2 separate regions of the Homo sapiens genome follow, and region 2 is linked to region 1. The links come from fine-mapping of genetic effects on plasma protein levels. A gene starts in region 1. The other region holds a variant in brackets. All regions are shown on one strand. Distances are between the middles of the regions.

The links. PIP is the posterior inclusion probability: the model's chance that the variant is causal. The UK Biobank Pharma Proteomics Project read protein levels with antibody pairs (Olink). The fine-mapping took linkage between variants from a reference panel, not from the people measured, so its PIPs are less certain.
Region 2: its variant is fine-mapped to the plasma level of the ACHE protein (UK Biobank, PIP above 0.99).

The regions. Positions count from the first base shown.
Region 1 is chr7:100,891,732-100,901,627 of GRCh38, reverse strand. It overlaps ACHE (acetylcholinesterase (Yt blood group)), which reads left to right and starts at 5,740. Exons shown (of 5, transcript NM_000665.5): 1 at 5,740-5,826; 2 at 7,376-8,463; 3 at 8,810-9,294. The coding sequence starts at 7,396. RefSeq lists silencers at 4,387-4,466, 5,689-5,838, 5,899-5,948 and enhancers at 5,303-5,923, 8,195-8,933, 8,934-9,673.
Region 2 is chr7:100,932,486-100,942,381 of GRCh38, reverse strand. It overlaps LOC105375431 (a long non-coding RNA gene), which reads left to right. Exons shown (of 3, transcript XR_007060457.1): 3 at 46-323. Among named protein-coding and RNA genes, the nearest start is that of MUC3A, 12 kb to the left of the region's middle. RefSeq lists an enhancer at 8,470-8,971. The variant AT/T (reference allele first, on the strand shown) is at 4,867.

The sequences.
Region 1 (9,896 bases):
TAAAATACAAAAAATTAGCCGGGCGTGGTGGTATGCACCTATAATCCCAGCTACTCGGGAGGCTGAGGCAGGAGAATCACTTGAACCCGGGAGGCAGAGGTTGCAATGAGCCAAGATCATGCCATTGCACTCCAGCCTGGGCAACAAAAGCGAGACTTCGTCTAAAAAAAAAAAAAAAAAAGGCAAAGAAAATACAGCCTACCCCATTTGAATGCTACAAGTGAGAATTAAATGAAATGATATTTAGCAAAGCATTCAGGAAGCGGCTGGCAAACAAGCTCTTCTTCCCCATACATGCTACTGTGAAAGCAACATTGGATCTGGGCTACTCTTCCACTCCACCCTGTTGTCCCCAGTGTTGTGGACATTTAAGGGATCCAGCTGACCACTGGGCCAACCTCACAGCCAGCCTGCACTGTCCCCAAGCCAGGTGGCAGAATCCCAAACCAGTCCTCCTCACTTCTGCACCAATCTTGTGTTAAATACTCAGTGTCCCTGGAAACCCCAGCCAAGGTCATCTATGGAACCTGTGCTTCCGGCACAGCTCTCACTTGGCCACTTGATACCTGCAGGGCAGCCAGGAGTGACCAGGAGCTCTCTGGGTGTCAAACATCTATAGCACCTAGTGTAACCTCACCAGCTATTTCCAAGAAGCCATTCAAGATGCACTGCTAACATTTAAACTGAAAACCGAGTCAGGGTTGGCTGGAACCTGTGAGACCAGGAACTGACAGCCAGTTGGACCAGCATGCCAGGGACCATGTCAGATGGATGTCAGGTCATACCAGGGAAGATGAGTGGCAACATGGCGTTCAATGTACTACTGGTGAATTAAATTGCATATTTCACTCCTTTCAGAAGCACTCAAGTTCATGGGCAAAAAGGAATGCCAAGAAAAGTACTGATCAGTTCTGATGGCCGGGCGCAGTGGCTCACACCTATAATCCCAGCACTTTGGGAGGCAGAGGTGGGAGGATCGCTTGAGCCCAGGAGTTCAAGACCAGCCTGGGCAACATAGCAAGACCCCGTCTCTACAAATTAATAAAATATTTAAAAATTAGCTGGGCATGGTGGTGCCACCTGTGGTCCCAGCTATTCAGAAGGCTGAAGGAGGGTTACTGCTTGAGCCCAGGACTTCAAGGCTGCAATGAGATATGATCACACCATTTCACTCCAACCCCGGGTGACAGAATGAGACCAAAAAAAAAAAAATTCTGAGCACAAGGGTATGCCACCCGCACTCCACTCTACCCCCGGCCAGAAAAGAGGCTAAACTAAGCAAAAGGTTATTTGGCGAATTGCATGGGAAATACTGTATACTCGTTAAATAAATAACAAAATTGTGAAAATAAAGTAAGACTTTGTAGAGACAAGCTATAAAAAATGTGTGAAATGCTCATAACTAGCAAGAGAGAAAAGGGTAAAAAGGATGGATAAGCCGCAAAGAGAAATCATCCTATCCTGTGTAGGATGACGTAACTTGGATCCAGCAGGAAGGCTGGCCCAACATTAAGTAGGGGACATAGGAAGGGGTGGGTAGAGGGAGGAAAGTCCTTTGTGTGGCCTCAGGCTCCCAATTCTGCCAGGTTACAATCTCGATTAATGGGGGGTTGGGCAAAGGCTCATCATTAAAGGAAGAGTTCGGCCGGATATGGTTGCTCAGGCCTGTAATCCCAGCACTTTGGGAGGCTGAGGCAGGTGGATCACTTAAGGCCAGGAGTTTGAGACCAGCCTGGCCAACATGGTGCAATCTCATCTCTACTAAAAATACAAAAAATTAACCAGGCATGGTGGTGCGCACCTGTAATCCCAGCTACTCAGGAGGCTGAGGTGGGAGAATCACTTGAACCTGGGAAGTGGAGGTTGCAGTGAGCCGAGTGCCACTGCACTCCAGCCTGGGGCGACAGAGTGAGACTCTGTCAAATAAATAAATAAATAGGAGATACTGTTCTTCAGCCCCTCCTCCTTCCTGCTGGCTGGAATGTAGATGTGATGGCTGATGTTCCAGCAGCCATTCTATGCCATGCGGTAGAAGTCACATGCTGAAGATGGTGCAGTAACAAGATACTGTGCAAGGAGCAACAGGGTTCCGTGTAAAGAAGCCTGGACCCTGACATTGAGGGCACCATGCCAACCCTGCAAGACTCATTTCTAGGTCTCTTTTTTTTTTTTTTTAAGACAGAGTCTCCCTCTGTCACCCAAGCTGGAGTGCAGTGGCGAGATCTTGGCCCACTGCAATCTCCGCCTCCCAGGTTCAAGCAATTCTTGTGCCTCAGCCTCCCAAGTAGCTAGGAGTACACGCACGCACCACCATACCAAGCTAATTTTTGTATTTTTAGTACAGACAAGGTTTTACCATGTTGCCCAGGCTGGTCTCAAACTCCTGGCCTCAAGTGATCCTCCTGCCTCAGCCTCCCAAGTAGCTAGAACTATAAGTATGCACCACCACACCCAGCTAATTATTTTTATTTTTTGTAGAGACAGGGTCTCACCACATTGGCCATGCTGGCCTCATACTCCTGGCCTCAAGTGATCCTCTCTCCTTGTCCTCCCAAAGTTCTGGGACGACAGTCACTGCACCTGGCCCAAGAAATACATTTCTATTATTTTTTTTTTTTTTTGAGACAGAGTTTCGCTCTTGTTGCCCAGGCTGGAGTACAATGGCATGATTTCCGCTCACTGCACCCTCCACCTCCTGGGTTCAAGCGATTCTCCTGCCTCAGCCTCCTGAGTAGCTGGGATTACAAGCATGGGCCACCATGCCCAGCTAATTTTTTTGTATTTTTAGTAGAGACAGGGTTTCTCCATGTTGGTCAGGCTGGTCTTGAACTCCCAACCTCAGGTGATCTGCCTGCCTCAGCCTCCCAAAATACTGGGATTACAACAGGCATGAGCCACCATGCCCGGCCTCTATTATATCTTGTTAAAGCCATTATTTGGTTTTTGGTCTCATACAGCTGAATTGAATATTAACCAATAAATAGAGGAAATAAGAATCTTTTGTGTTAGAAGATGTGGATCAAGGTCTGTAATAGAAGTGGGGTTCCCTGCCAGGCATGGCAGCTCATGCCTGTAATCCCAACACTTTGGGAGGCTGAGGCAGGAGGATCACCTGAGGTCAGGAGTTCGAGACCAGCCTGGCCAACATGGTGAAACCCCACCTCTGCTAAATATACAAAAATTAGCCAGGTGTGGTGGCAGGCGCCTCTAGTCCCAGCTACTCAGGAGGCTGGGAAAGGAGAATCCTTGAGCCCAGGAGGCAGAGGTTGCAGCGAGCTGAGATGGCATCATCTCTACACTCTAGCCTGGGCGACAGAGCGAGACTCTGTCTAAAAAAAAAAAATGGCGCTTCCTTCCAAGGTGGGAGACAGAGATAAAAGAGGGGTAGGGAAATTCTCTGAATTGGCAGAACTGGTAGTAGAAGCAAGGCTCATTCCTGGATAAACAGAAATGGTGAGAGAAGAAATGGGAAAAATCAAGGACATCCCTGCAGTGACAGCTGTGGAGGGTGGGGAGTTTACTATGCTAGACTATGTAGGGAAACGCCTCCTGGCTTGACAGGTTAGGTGCCTGTGTTGACAACGGTTGCTGAGAGCTCAAGGTGAAAAGAGGGATAGTTCCAGGAAATGATAACCCTGGTGATAAACTATCCCTGCCCTCCCTATCTTCATTGTACAGGCCTAGAAACTCGTGACGACAGAGGTTAGGTGACACCTGCGTGGCACAGTTCGTCTGGAGGGTGACAGGGGCAAGCCTTCATCACTAGCAGGGCCAAAAATCCCTAAAGCCTCAGGACTGGGGCAGGCCTCAGAGCACTCGTTCACAGTTTGTTTCCATCATTTTATTTTTTTGCGGAGAAGGGAGTCTCGCTATGTTGCCCAGGCTAGTCTCCAACTCCTGGACTGAAGCGATCCTCCTGTCTCGGCCTCCCAGAGTGCTGGGATTACAGGCACCGCACTAGGGGCCACACGCGGCCCCATCATTTTAATAATTCATAATTACCACGCTTAGAAACCTGCCTCAGATTCATTCCCCCCGCAGCAACACCCACCATCCACCCTCCTGTCCCCTCCCCCATGCACAGCCCTTACATCTGCTCTTCAGGGATCTCAACTAGGGCACATGGTCTGGCCAGTGAGGAGCCTTCAACTAGTGCGGCCAGAACGCTGAAGGCCGGATACAAGGAGCCTCGGTGTCCAGGCAGGGGATTTGGGGTTGCCTGAGATTGGGGCGGGGAAAGCCGGAGACAGTGGGCACAGATGGCGAGGGGTTCACCTCCCCAACACCCCCAACCCAGCCCAGTCTCCGAGGCCCGAGTGGCTGCTTTTTGCGCCACCTGGCGGCCGTCTCCAGCGAGCGGAGCGCGGGTGACCGTGCCTGCGGGACCCGGTTCCCGTGGGGCGAGCGGGCGTGGGGCCCGCCCAGCTTGGAGAGCCGGGAACCGCGCGGCCCAGGGACTGGCAAGACTCCGGATTCAACCCCTGCGAGGCCCCGCAACCCGGTGCCCGCGGTCCCTGGCGGCGGCGCCCGCGTGCCCGAGGCGCTGCGGGGCGCTGCGGGGCGCGCGGCGGTTAGAGCGAGCGTGTGCGCACGCGCCCACCCCACGCCGCGCCCCGCACCGCCGCGCGCGCGCACGCACGCCCGACGCTGGCCTGCGCCGGCCGCTCTCCCACGCGGGGTCTCGGGGGCTCCTGAGCCGGCCGCCTCCAGGAAGCAGGCGCCGCGCGGTATTGCCGCATGCACCTCGGTCGTGGGGACCCCGCTGCAGCAGCCCTGTCCACACGGGTGAACTCCTGGAGGGCGGGGCGGGGGGCAATCTGCGCGGGTCAGGCCCCTCGGAGCAGGCTGGGGGCGCCCGAGCCAGGCCGCTCCCACCTGCCAGCCGCGTGGCCAATGAATGCTAGGCCTGGTGATGTCATGCCCCGACCGGACCCTGGTGACGAAAGTCCGAAGTCACCCGTCAGGGAACCAGCACAGACCCACCCGCGGGGGTTCCAGAAGTTTCCACTGCCGCCGCGGAGTGCGGCCTCGCCCAGCAGCCTTGCGCGTGCTACCACGCTGTCCTGCCTTCTCAGGTGTCCCAAGTCACCCCTTCCTCCCCCAGGGGTCTCCTGTCTCCATGCCCTCCCACCTCATTTCCACTAGCGATCCCATTTTACATCTCCATTCCCACAGGTGTCCTTTCATCCCCAGGAGTGTCCCACGTCACCTTTTCTGCACCCGTGCCACCTGGACCCCTAAGGGGACGGTACTCTGCCACACTCCCACATGCCTCTCCTCCCATGCCACCCGTCTGTGTCGTGGCCGGGGATGCATGACCCCTTGGCCTTGCGCTAACTTCACCAGCCTCGAGCGAGACCGACAGGGTGTCCAAGTGTGTCCGTCCGTCTGTGAAAGTCGTCCCTGCGTTTGTCTGTGCCTGTCACTGCATGAGGTCGTCCGTCTGCGCGTGTCTGTCTCCACGGGCTTCTGTCCGTCTGTCTGTCACGTGGGTGTCTACTCCGCCGCTGCAGGTCTTTGGGTCGCGTCTGTCACTGCGCTCTGTCGTCGGTCGGCGTCTGGCACTGGAGTGCGTCTGGGCCCCGGGGTCTCCGGGTCTCGGCTCCAAGGGAGGGAGAGAGAGGGGAGGTGGCCACCCGGGAGAGCGGGGAGGGGCGGGGGCGGAGACAGTGGGCGGGGGCGGGCGGGGGCGCTGTGAGGCCCGGAGGGGGTGTGTGCGGGGGGCCGGAGGCGGCGGCTGTCAGAGTCGGCTCAGCCTGCGCCGGGGAACATCGGCCGCCTCCAGCTCCCGGCGCGGCCCGGCCCGGCCCGGCTCGGCCGCCTCAGGTGAGTCTCCCTCCCCGCCCGGGACTCTCCTTAAGGCCCGGGTCCGGGGCACCGTGCGCTCCCCGAGGGGTCCAGGCCCCCCTAACGGGACGGCTCCCGCTTCCCCGGGCCTGCCCCGCGCCGCCCTCCGCTGCCCCGCACTCGTCCGGAACTCTTCCCCGGCCGCCTCACACTCACCGACGCCCACGCAGGAGCCCGAGCCCGCGGGAACGGCCGCCGCCTCTGCGCTCCGATTCCCGCGGGGACCCCCGAGCACCCCTTCCCCGATCGCTCCCTAGTCCGGGGCCACTGGAAGACACCCCCTAATTGGGGCGGTACCCGAGCTGCGCAGGTTCCCGGCGCCGGGCTGGGCACCCCCATCCCCAGGGCCACAAGCCAGCGCCCCTGCGCAGCGCCCCGCAGAGGCCCCCTCCGAGGCCCAGGACGCCCCCTCCCGCGGAGACTCCATCTCTATTTTTTGGGAAGGGGAGGCTCGGCGGAAGCCCCGAGTTATAATTAGCGCCACTCGGGTTTCCTAGTTAATCTCCAGCAGCACCACCACCCCCCGCTCAGGGCGGCGGGGGCTGGGCTAGGAGTGACCGGCGGGAGAGGGGGGAGTTCCCACCCGGGGAATTTTGATCCTTTGGCTGGAGATGCCGGAACCGTAGCAGCTGCTGCCCCCAAAATAGCGCCCCCGCCCCTGCAGCCGGGGATCTCCGGAGTCCCGGGAACGCAGGCGTCCCGGCTCGCCCTTCAGGCGGCTCTGCAAGGCCCTCGAGCCCCCAGGCCCCCTCCCCAAGTTCCCGGCTCCTGGCTCGGGGCGGGGAGCGCCGACCTTTTCTCGGTCTCTACTGCCCTCCGCCGGCGGCGGCGTGCACGGCAGCTTCAGACGGATGGGGGGCTCTCGAGTCCTGGGGGACGCGGGCTGGCGAGCCTGTTTGCTGGGGCTGGGCTGGGAGCGTGCGCAGCTGATGGGAACCCGCGGGCATCAGCGCTCGGTGCCAGACATTGGATGAGAAGGGGCAGGGTTGGGTGGGGAGTGGACTAGGCAGGATTTGGGGGACCCCGGGACCTGAGGCTTCCACACCCTGAATGCCCAGCCCACCGCCCCCCAGGGCCCCGGGTCTGGCCGACCCAGGAGAGCGGGGCTGCGCTTCAGGCCGCCGCAAGCTCCCCCAGCGGCGCTGCCCGTCCGTGAGGCCGCGCCCTGTCGGGTGGCCTGTTCGTGGACTGAGGCTTCTGGTGCCCTCACTGCACGAGCTGGGCCCGGCCCAGTTCCGGGAAGAGGTGAGGGCAGTGGACCCCTGCGGAGCAGAGAGGGTGCTCCTCTCTGTTCCCTGCATTTGTCTGGATATGGGTGTCTGCCTGATCTCTTTCCCCTCCTGCCCGCTGGCCTGTGTCCTTGTCTCTGCCTGTCTCCTTCCCTCCCTCCCTCTCTCCCCTCATCTTTGCCAACCTGCCCCACCTCCTCTGCAGCTGAGCGATAACCCTTGGGCCGACAGTGCCCTAATCTCCTCCCTCCTGGCTTCTCGACCGACCCTTCACCCTTTCCCTTTCTTTCTCCCAGCAGACGCCGCCTGCCCTGCAGCCATGAGGCCCCCGCAGTGTCTGCTGCACACGCCTTCCCTGGCTTCCCCACTCCTTCTCCTCCTCCTCTGGCTCCTGGGTGGAGGAGTGGGGGCTGAGGGCCGGGAGGATGCAGAGCTGCTGGTGACGGTGCGTGGGGGCCGGCTGCGGGGCATTCGCCTGAAGACCCCCGGGGGCCCTGTCTCTGCTTTCCTGGGCATCCCCTTTGCGGAGCCACCCATGGGACCCCGTCGCTTTCTGCCACCGGAGCCCAAGCAGCCTTGGTCAGGGGTGGTAGACGCTACAACCTTCCAGAGTGTCTGCTACCAATATGTGGACACCCTATACCCAGGTTTTGAGGGCACCGAGATGTGGAACCCCAACCGTGAGCTGAGCGAGGACTGCCTGTACCTCAACGTGTGGACACCATACCCCCGGCCTACATCCCCCACCCCTGTCCTCGTCTGGATCTATGGGGGTGGCTTCTACAGTGGGGCCTCCTCCTTGGACGTGTACGATGGCCGCTTCTTGGTACAGGCCGAGAGGACTGTGCTGGTGTCCATGAACTACCGGGTGGGAGCCTTTGGCTTCCTGGCCCTGCCGGGGAGCCGAGAGGCCCCGGGCAATGTGGGTCTCCTGGATCAGAGGCTGGCCCTGCAGTGGGTGCAGGAGAACGTGGCAGCCTTCGGGGGTGACCCGACATCAGTGACGCTGTTTGGGGAGAGCGCGGGAGCCGCCTCGGTGGGCATGCACCTGCTGTCCCCGCCCAGCCGGGGCCTGTTCCACAGGGCCGTGCTGCAGAGCGGTGCCCCCAATGGACCCTGGGCCACGGTGGGCATGGGAGAGGCCCGTCGCAGGGCCACGCAGCTGGCCCACCTTGTGGGCTGTCCTCCAGGCGGCACTGGTGGGAATGACACAGAGCTGGTAGCCTGCCTTCGGACACGACCAGCGCAGGTCCTGGTGAACCACGAATGGCACGTGCTGCCTCAAGAAAGCGTCTTCCGGTTCTCCTTCGTGCCTGTGGTAGATGGAGACTTCCTCAGTGACACCCCAGAGGCCCTCATCAACGCGGGAGACTTCCACGGCCTGCAGGTAACTAGTGGCTAGCTGGCGTGAAGCTGGCTCCTCTGGGTCCCAACGGTCCCTCCCCTCCCTGCAGGGACCCAGGCATGAGGGCTTCTCCAGGCCCATTCCCAGAAGTCCCAGAAGTCCTCCCTGAGGGCTCAGATCCCAGGGTGGTCAGCAGGGCAGACAGGAAAGCCACCATGGGTCTATTTTCTCTTTCTCTGCATCCCTCCCCTGATCTCGTCCTCTCTCTGTCCATGGTTCCGGGTCTGTAACTGTTCATCTCTCTGGCTCTTTGTCTGTCCATCTGTTTCTGTCTACTTGTCTGTCTGTGCCTGTCGCTCCATCCCACCCCCCTCTCCCTCACCCCCAGGTGCTGGTGGGTGTGGTGAAGGATGAGGGCTCGTATTTTCTGGTTTACGGGGCCCCAGGCTTCAGCAAAGACAACGAGTCTCTCATCAGCCGGGCCGAGTTCCTGGCCGGGGTGCGGGTCGGGGTTCCCCAGGTAAGTGACCTGGCAGCCGAGGCTGTGGTCCTGCATTACACAGACTGGCTGCATCCCGAGGACCCGGCACGCCTGAGGGAGGCCCTGAGCGATGTGGTGGGCGACCACAATGTCGTGTGCCCCGTGGCCCAGCTGGCTGGGCGACTGGCTGCCCAGGGTGCCCGGGTCTACGCCTACGTCTTTGAACACCGTGCTTCCACGCTCTCCTGGCCCCTGTGGATGGGGGTGCCCCACGGCTACGAGATCGAGTTCATCTTTGGGATCCCCCTGGACCCCTCTCGAAACTACACGGCAGAGGAGAAAATCTTCGCCCAGCGACTGATGCGATACTGGGCCAACTTTGCCCGCACAGGGTCAGCAGTGCAGAGGGAGAGAAGGCTGGGGAGGACAGGAGTCGGGGGCGGGAGGACACACAAAGGCAGACACACGGAGACAGAAAGGACGGGTGGGACAGGGGCAGGATAGAACAGCCAGAGAGGGATATGCTCACAAAGTAGATAAAAGGGGAGAGAAAAAGAAAGGAGACAGAGAAGGCAGAGGGGGTCTTGCAGAGACAGAGGCAAAGGAAAGTGAGGAGGAGACGAGGTAGACATGGAGGGGGCGGGGCACAGTGGCTCACCCCTGTAATTCCAGCCCTTTGGGAGGCCAAGGTGGGAGGATCCCCTGAGGCCAGGAGTTTGAGACCAGACTGGACAACATAACAAGACCCCGACTCTTAAAAAGAAAAAAAATACAAAACTTAGCCAGGCACGGTGGCTCGTGCCTCTAGTCCCAGCTACTTGGGAAGGTGAGGCAGGAGGATTGCTTGAGCCTGGGAGGTTGAGGCTGCAGTGAGCTATGATGGCACCACTGCACTCCAGCCTGAGTGGCCCTATCTCTGGAAAAAAAAAAAAAAAAAAAAAAGGGAGACCAAGACAAAGGAGTTGGAGCTGGATTAAGTCAAACCAGTGATGAT
Region 2 (9,896 bases), 41 kb before region 1:
TCTGATTAATTTAATTTCTTCTGTCTCCTCTTGTCTTCTTCCTAGAGTCTGGTGCATCTGAAAGTTCTGTGAACACTAGCCTGCCACATTCAGTGGATCTGGAGGCAACTATCGCCCTCCTATAAATACCAAGGGTGCCACTGGCCTGCTCCTTACACCAGACAGTAAACAGTCACCAAGAGCCTGATTGAAGCTTTGGGACAAAACAATGAAACCAAAAGATGGATTTGCTGAGTAGCGGAGACCGTAAACTGCTACTCTCAGTTTATTTATTTATTTATTTTTAATTTTTTTTTTTTTTTGAGATGGAGTCTCACTCTGCCGCCCAGGCTGGAGTGCAGTGGTGTAATCTCAGCTCACTGCAGCCTCCGCTTCCCAGGTTCCATCAATTCTCCTGCCTCAGCCTCCCGAGTAGCTGAGATTACAGGCCCATGCCACCACGACCTGCTAATTTTTGTATTTTAAACCATGTTGGCCTGGCTGGTCTTGAACTCCTGACCTCAGGTGACCCAACTGCCTCAGCCTCCCAAAGTGCTGGGATTACAGGAGTGAGCCACTGCACCCAGCCGTCTCTGTGTTTTAAAAAATAAAATAATAATAAATACATTATTTTTAGGCCAGGTGCAGTGACTCATGCCTGTAATCCCAGCACTTTAGGAGGCCAAGGTGAGTGGATCACTTGAAGTCAGGAGTTCAAGACCAGCCTGGCCAACATGGCGAAACGCGGTCTCTACTAAAAATACAAAAAAAAAATTAGCTAGGTGTAGTGGCTCACACCTGTAATCCCAGCTACTTGGGAGGCTGAGGCAGAAGAATTGCTTGAACCCAGGAGGCAGAGGTTGCAGTGAGCTGAGATTGTGCCATTGCACTTCAGCCTGGGAAACGGAGGAAGACTCTATCTCAAAAAATAAATAAATAAAATAAAAAATAAATATATTATTGTTAAAACTGGTTTTCCACCATTGGTGATCTTAAAGTGTGTGCTTAAAACTTTTATTTTAATGATATTATTCTTGAATTGCAAGCCCAGATATCTATAGCATGATTGGTCTTAGTGAATTTATTGAGGTGTACGTTTTATTTAAAAGTATGTGGTGGCTCACGCCTGTCATCCCAGCACTTTGGGAAGCTGAAGAGGGTGGATCACAAGGTCAGGAGATCAAGAACATCCTGGCTAACGTGGTGAAACCCCATCTCTACTAAAAATACAAAAAATTAGCCAGACGTGATGGCAGGCGCCTGTAGTCCCAGCTACTCAGGAGGCTGAGGCAGGAGAATGGCATGAGCCCGGGAGGCAGAGCTGGCAGTGAGCCGAGATTGCACCACTGCACTCTAGCCTGGGTGACAGAGCAAGACTCCATCTCAAAAAAAGAAAATGAATAAAAAGACAAGAAAATGTGGCACATATATACCATGGAATACTATGCAGCCATAAAAAAGGATGAGTTCATGTCCTTTGCAGGGACATGGATGAAGCTGGAAACCATCATTCTTAGCAAACTATCGCAAGGACAGAAAGCCAAACACTGCATGTTCCCACTCATAGGTGGGAATTGAACAATGAGAACACTTGGTCACAGGGCAGGAACATCGCACACTGGACTTTGTTGGGGGCTGGCGGGCTGGGGGAGGGATGGCATTAGGAGAAATACCTAATGTAAATGACGAGTTGATGGGTGCAGCAAACCAGCATGGCACATGTATACCTATGTAACAAACCTTCATGTTGTGCACATGTATCCTAGAATTTAAAGTATAATAAAAAAAATCATACCACGGTCTTTCCTATAGAAAGATCTAAGCTTGCTAATATGACTGAATTGCTTTACTATTGAATTCCAGCAAACACTTAAGGAAGAAATCATACCAACTGTACACAAACTCTTTCAGAAAATGGAACACTTCCCAACTTTGTTTATGAGCCCAGCATTATTCTGATACCAAACCAAGACAAATACATTACAAGAAAACTAGACCGATAGCCCTAATGAATATAGACACAAAAATCCTCAAGGAAATATTATGAAATAAAACATAGCAATACATAAAAATAATGCATCATGACCAAGTGGGGTTAATCCCAGGGATACAAAGCTGGTTAAACATTTGAAAATGAATCAATGTAATTTCTTATGTCAACAGTCTAAAGATGAGAAACCACATGATCATTTCCATAGATGCAGGAAAAGCATTTGACAAAATCTGACGTCCATTACTGATAAAAGCTCTCCGAAAACTAGTAAATAGAAGGAACTTCCTCAACCTATTAAAGGACAGCTACAAAAAAGAAAAAAAAAATCAGCAAAGTATCTTAGTCTGTTCAGGCTGCTGCAACAAAATACTGTAAACTGGGTAGTTTATAAACAACAGACATTTATTCTCATAGTTCTAGAGGCTGGGAAGTCCAAGATCAAGGCAGATTTTGTGTCTAGTGAGATCCTGCTTTCTGGCTTATAGACAGTTCCTTCTTTCTGTGTCTTCACATGGTAGAAGGGCAAGGGTCTTTCTAGGTCTCCTTTTTTTTTTTTTTTTTTTTTTTTTCCTGAGACAGAGTCTCACTGTGTCACCCAGGCAGGCTTGGGGCTCACTGCGACCTCTTCCTCCCAGGATCAATGATTCTCCTGCCTCAGCCTCCCAAGTAGCTGGGACTACAGTCATGTGCCACCATGCCCTGCTAGTTTTTGTACTTTTAGTAGAGATGTATTTCACCATGTTGGCCAGGCTGGTCTCGAACTCCTGACCTCAAGTGATCCACCTACCTCAGCCTCCCGAAGTGCTGGGATTATGGGTATGACCTTATCTGGCCTCTGGGTCTCTTTCATAAGGGCACTAATCCCATTCATGAGGGCTCCACCACCATGGCCTAATCACCTCCTGATATGGTTTGGGTCTGTGTCCCCACCCAAATCTCATGTTAAAATGTAATCCCCAGTGCTGGAGGTGGGGCCTGGTGAGAGGTGATTGGATCATGGAGGTGAATCCTTCATAAATGGTTTAACACCATCCCCTTGGTGCTATTCTTGTGGTAGAGTTTTCATGAGCTCTGGTTGTTTAAAAGTGTGTGGCACCTCCCCACTCTCTCTCTTCCTCCTGCTCTGGCTGTGTGAAGACACCTGCTCAGGCTTTGCCTTCTGCCATGAGTAAAAGCTCCCTGAGGCCTCCCCAGCCATGCTTCCTGCATGGCCTGCAGAACCCTAAGCCAATTAAACATATATATGACCCAGTCTCAGTTCCTTCTTTTTTTTTTTTTTTTTTTTTGAGACAGAGTCTTGCTCTGTCATCCAGGCTGGAGTGCAGTGGTGCGATCTTGGCTCACTGCAACCTCCACCTCCCGGGTTCAAGTGATTCTCCTGCCTCAGCCTCCCGAGTAGCTGGGATTACAGGTGTGTGTCACCACTGCCAGCTAATTTTTGCATTTTTTAGTAGAGAGGGGTTTCACCATGTTTGCCAGGCTGGTCTCGAACTTCTGGCCTCAAGTGATTCACCCACCTCGGACTCCCGAAGTGTCAGTTATTTCTTTATAACAATGTGAGAACAGACTAAAACACCTCCTAAAGGCCCCACCTCCTGATATCATCACCTTGGGGGTTAAGATGGCAACATATATGGATTTCGGGGAGCCACAAACATTCAGACCATGGCACTAAGTACATCTATAAAGCTAAGGTCATTAATAGGTTTTTTTTATATGTTTATTTGTTTATTTTGAAACGGAGTCTCGCTCTGTCACCAGCCTGCAGTGCAGTGGCACAATCTCACCTCACTGCAACCTCTGCCTCCCAGATTCAAGTGATTCTCCTTCCTCAGCCTCCCAAGTAGCTGGGATTACAGGTACATGCCACCACACCCAGCTAATTTTGGTATTTTTAGTAGAGATGGGGTTTCACCATGTTGTCCAGGATGGTCTCGATCTCCTGACCTGGTGATCTGCCCACCTCGGCCTCCAAAAGTGCTGGGATTACAGGTGTGAGCCACCATACCCGGCCAATCATTAATAGGTTTTGGAGGGCGATTCTTTGTTATGTCAAGACGAATCTTTCAGCTGGGCACAGTGGCTCACACTTGTAATCCTAACACTTTGGGAGACGGGAGGATCACTTGAGCCCAGGAGTTCAAGACCAGCCTGGGCAACATAGTGAGACACTGTTTTAAAAAAAAAAAATCACTGTGATTAAATGCAGCAGTGCAGAATTGCTTTTGGTTTACTATTTTGACAAGAGCCATCCACTGGTCTCATCCTAACATTTCTTATTCTATAGGTTAGGAAGTCAGTGTGGGAATTCTGCAGGGTGGTGAGGATATTAATCTCAATTTTACACTTAGATATTAGGAAAGTGACCATAGGAAGTTTGTGGGCACAGGGGCCTATAGTGAGGCAAAGTCAGGGTATAACTACATTTATCAGGGCTTTTGTTAAAAAGTCAAGAAAGGTCGGGCATGGTGGCTGACACCCATAATCCCAGCACTTTGGGAGGCTGACGCTGGCAGATCACTCGAGGTCAGGAGTTTGAGACCAGCCTGGCCCCCGTCTCTACTAAAAACACAAAAAAATTAGTCGGGCATGGTGGCACACACCTGTAATCCTGGCTACCCGGAAGGCTGAGTCAGGAGAATCACTTGAACCCGGGAAGCAGAGGTTGCAGTGAGCTGAGATGGCCCCACTGCACTCCAGCCTGGGCGACAGAGTGCGACTCCACCTCAAAAAAAAAAAAAAAAAAAAAAGTCAAAAAAAAAGACCAGGTATAGTGGCTCATGCCTGAAATCTCAGCACTTTGGGAGGCAGAGGCTAGAGGATCCCTTGAGGTCAGAAGTTGGAGACCGGCCTGGGCAACATAGTGAGACCTCATCTCTACCAAAAAAAAAAAA[AT/T]TTTAAATTATCTGTGTGTGTTGGTGTAGTGTGTGCCTATAGTCACAGCTACTAAGGAAGCTGAGGCAGGAGGATTGCTTGAGCCCAGGAGTCTGAGACTGCAGTGAGCCATGATCATGCCACTCCACTCCAGCCTGGGTGGCAGAGCAAGACTTTCCTCATATATTTAAAAAAAAAAAAACAGATGGCAGCAAGGCTGTGGAGAAAAGGGAACACTCATTCACTGTTGGTCAGAATGTAAATTGTTCAGCCATTACGAAGAGCAGTTCGGATATTTCTCAAAGAACTATGAGTCGAAGTACCAACCAACCCAGCAACCCCACTACTGGGTAACTATCCCCCCAAAAAATAAATTGTTCTACCAAAAGGACACCTGCACCCATGGCACAACAGTATTCACAATAGAAAAGACATGGAATCAACCTAGATGCCCATCTATGGTGAAAAATACAGTATACATACACCATGGATTACTACACAGCCATAAAAAAGAACAAAATCATGTCCATTGCAGCAACGGGGATACAGCTGGAAACCACTAGTCTGAGCTAACTAACGCAGAAACAAAAAACCAAATAACGCTTATTCTCACTTATAAGTGGGAGCTAAATATTGGGTGCACATGGACATAAAAATAAAAACAATAGACACAGGGACTATTAGAGGTAGAAGAGAAGGAGCAGGGCAAGGGCTGAAAAAATGATCTACTGGATACTATGCTCACTACCTTGGTGACATATTCATTCATACCCCAAAACTCAGCATCACATCATATACCTTTGTAACAAACCTGCACTTGCATCCCCTTTTTCTAAAATATTAATAGAAGTTGGCTGGCCAGGCGTGGTGGCTCACGCCTGTAATCCCAGCACTTTGGGAGGCCGAGGCGGGCGGAGGTCAGGAGTTCGAGACCAGCCTGGCCACTGTGGTGAAACCCTGTCTCTGCTAAAAATACAAAAATTAGCCTGGTGTGGTGGCAGGCGCCTGTAATCCCAGCTGCTCGGGAGGCTGAGGCAGGAGAATCACTTGAACCCGGGAGGTGGAGGTTGCAGTAAGCCCGGATCGTGCCACTGCACTTTAGCCTGGGTGACAGAGTGAGACCCTGTCTTGAAAGAAAGAAAAAAAGAGAGAAAGAGAGAAAGAGAGAGAGAAAGAAAGAGAGAAAGAACAGAAAAAAAGAAAGAAAGAAAGAAAGAAGAAAGAGAAAAAGAAAATTAGTTCTTCAGTTGCATTATCCATATTTTAAGAGTACAATGCCACATATGGCTGCTGTCTGCCATATTGGATCATTAGAGATAGAACATTGTCTTCATCGGAACAGGGTCTATGGCCGGAGCTGGGTTATAGCATGTCACACACATTTCTAAACACCTTCTTTGGCTCTCTGGTAAACAACCTCTGAAGTTTACAAGCACCTCTCGGCCTGTTACAGTAACAGCCTACAAACAAATTAAAAATTGTGAAGCCCAGGTTGTCCAGACCAGCAGTCCCCAAACTTTTTGGCACCAAGGACTGGTTTCATGGAAGACAATTGTTCCATGGACCAGGAGGGTCGAGGGGGACGGGTTTGGGATGGTTCAAGCACATTACATTCATTGTGCACTTTATTTCTATTATTATTATTATTGTTATTTGAGATGGAGTGTCACTCTGTCACCCAGGCTAGAGTGCAGTGGCACGATCTCGGCTCACTGCAACCTCCATCTCCCGGGTTCAAGAGATTCTCCTGCCTCAACCTCCCAAGTAGCTGGAATTGTAGGTGCCCACCACCACCCCCAGCTAATTTTTGTATTTTTTGTAGAGACAGTGTTTCACCATGTTGGCCAGGGCAGTCTCAAACTCCTGACCTCAGGTGATCTGCCCACCTCCACCTCCCAAAGTGCTGGGATTACAGTCGTGAGCCACCACACCCAGCCTATTTCTATTATTATGTCGTAATATATAATGAAATAATTATGCAACTTACCATAATGTAGAATCAGTGGGAGCCCTGAGTTTGCCTTCCTGTAATTAGATGGTCACAACAGGGGAGTGATGAGAGACAGTGACAGATCATCAGGCATTAGATTTTTCATAAGGAGCACACAACCTAGGTCACTCATGCACAGTTCACAATAGAGTTGGCACTCCTATGAGAATCTAATGCCACAGCTGATCTGACAGGAGGCGGAGCTCAGGCAGTAATAATAGTGTTGAGGAGCCACTGTAAATATAGATGAAGCTTCACTCGCTCACCCATCGTTCACCTCCTGCTCTGAAACCTGGTTTCTAACAGACCACAGACCCGGTCTCCTGAATATTCTTCCATTCTGAGAGAACAAGTAGCTTCTCAATCAGCAACCCAAAGCGATCACTTCACCAATGCTGACAGCCTACACTCAAGGGAAACATGCTAGACACCCCCATAGTTCTCATGTAAAATTCTATTATTGTCAAGTTTTAAACAACCTATTTCTTTTTTTTTCTTTTTTCTGAGATGGAGTTTCGCTATGTCTCCCAAGCCGGCATGCAGTGGCGTGACCTTGGCTCACTGCAACATCCACCTCCTAGGTTCAAGCAATTTCCCTGCCTCAGCCTCCCGAGTAGCTGGGAATACACGCGTGCACCACCATGCCCAGCTAATTTTTATGTTTTCAGTAGAGACAGGGTTTTGCCATGTTGGCCAGGCTGGTCTCAAACTGCTGACCTCAAGTGATCCACCTGCCTCAGCCTCCCAAAGTGCTGGGATTACAGGGGTGTGCCACCACACCTAGCAACCCATTTCTTTGGACTCCAAATTTGCTGATTTAATTTCTAGAAACTGAAAAATCCAGCGTGAGGTCACGGGACTGCATGTGTTTCCATGGGCGTTCTGGTGCAAAAAATAGAATAGTAAAATAAAATAAAATAAACGATCAAACAAGAAAAACCTCAGATTGTGAAAATGCAGAGAGAGAGAGGGGTACAGTATTCTAAACTAAAGCATCATTTGGGAGAAACTTTCTAGATAATGTTGAAGATTGGACAATTCCTAGGTGCCATCCTGTTTGAATCTAATCATCATGAAATTGCCTTTGGAGATTGTCTATAAAAAGAAACCCTGTTTGTTTTGTTTTTGTTTTTGTGAGACAGAGTCTCACTCTGTCACCCAGGCTGGAGTGCAGTGGCTTCATCTTGGCTCACTGCAACCTCAGTCTCCCAGGTTCAAGCCATTCTCCTGCCTCAGCCTCCTGAGTAGCTGGGATCAGAGGCCCATGCCACCATGCCAAGCTAATTTTGTATTTTTAGTAGAGGTGGGGTTTCACCATGTTGGTCAGGCTGGTCTAGAACTCCCGAGGTTTCCCCATGTTGGCCAGGTTAGTCTTATTCTCCTGACCTCAAATGATCCACCCGCCTCAGCCTCCCAAAGTGCTGGGATTACAGGAGTAAGCCCCCCAGCCAGGAAACCCTGTTTTGACAGCAAGGTTAATGGAGTTCTGTGGACTGGCTCCTGATGGGCAGGCCGAATAGCAGCAGGGCTGTGAATACCTCGGCAGTGGCTTTCATGGGTGAGTGGGACCATCTGATGGGCTGGGCAGGGCTCCCTGGATGGGTGGGGTTTCTTGGATGGCTGTGGCTTGCTGGCAGGTGGGGCTTCTTGGGTGGGCAGGGCTTCTTGAGTGGGTGTGGTTTCCTGGATGGGGCGTGGCTTCACGGGTGGGTGCAGTCTTACCACAGGGCCAGACCCCTAGGTAGGGGGAGGTAGAAATCCTCCTAGCCAGGTAGCTGGTACAGAAGCAGATGGTTGGTGGGGAAAGGAGTGGGGAAGGGACAGTTAATCTGGTAACTAAGAGCCTCTGGCCACAGTAACTCCAGAGTTGGACCACAGACACTATATTTGCTGCAAGGAGGGAGGATGGTACCAGAAGACACTGGAGTTGGGAGGACCAACCCCCAGGACCCTAACCCACTGTGCCCAGGTGGGAAACTGGTAACCTGGCCAAGGAGAGTGGTTTGGAGACCCCACTGAAACCGCCTTTGCAAAAATTATGACAGAGGCCGGGTGCAGTGGCTCACACCTGTAATCCCAGCACTTTGGGAGGCCAAGGTAGGTGGAGTGCTTGAGGTCAGGAGTTCGAGACCAGCCTGGCCAACATGGCAAAACCCGTCTCTACTAAAACTTAGCCGGACATGGTGGCAGGTGCCTGTAATCCCAGCTACTCAGGAGGCTGAGACAGGAGAATCACTCGAATCTGGGAGGTAGAGGTTGCAGTGAGCCGAGATCACCCCACTGTACTCCAGCCTGGGTGACAGAGTAGGACTCTGTCTTTAAAAAAAAAGAAAAAAGAAATTATGACAGTGAGTAAGACCCGACACAGGAAAATGATGGCAGTAAAATAATGTAATCTAGCTGACTTCTTCTTGCTTCTAGCCTCTAAACTGTCCTTGTTCATTCCTGGGCATAGGCTAGGTTAACTTGGGGAGGAATTTAATTTATGGTTTAAACTTAAAGCAAGGATGATAATAGCCCTTCCCAAAACTACCACCTGTTTGTTCTGGGACCAAACTGCCTTTGTAAAACTAATGACAACTCACAAGATTAGGATTATGGGGGTGTCTGAACTCTGCTAAAATGAAGCTAAAAGTTCAGCCATTGAGCTGGGTGCGGTGGCTCACGCCTGTAATCCCAGCACTTTCGAAGGCCGCGGGGGGAGGGGGGATGCGGATCATGAGGTCAGGAGTTCGAGACCAGCCTGGCCAACGTGGTGAAACCCCGTCTCTACTAAAAATACAAAAAAATTAGCCGGGTAGATGGTGAGCCTCTACCTCCCAGATTCAAGTGATTCTCCTGCCTCAGCCTCCCAAGTAGCTGGGACTACAGGCATGCACCACCAACCCCGGCTAATTTTTTTGTATTTTAGTAGAGACGGGGTTTCACCACGTTGGCCAGGCTGGTCTCAAACTCCTGACCTCATGATCTGCCTGCCTCGGCCTCCCAAAGTGCTGGGATTACAGGTGTGAATCACCGCACCCGGCCTCTTGAAAGTATTTTTACTAGGTATAGAATTCT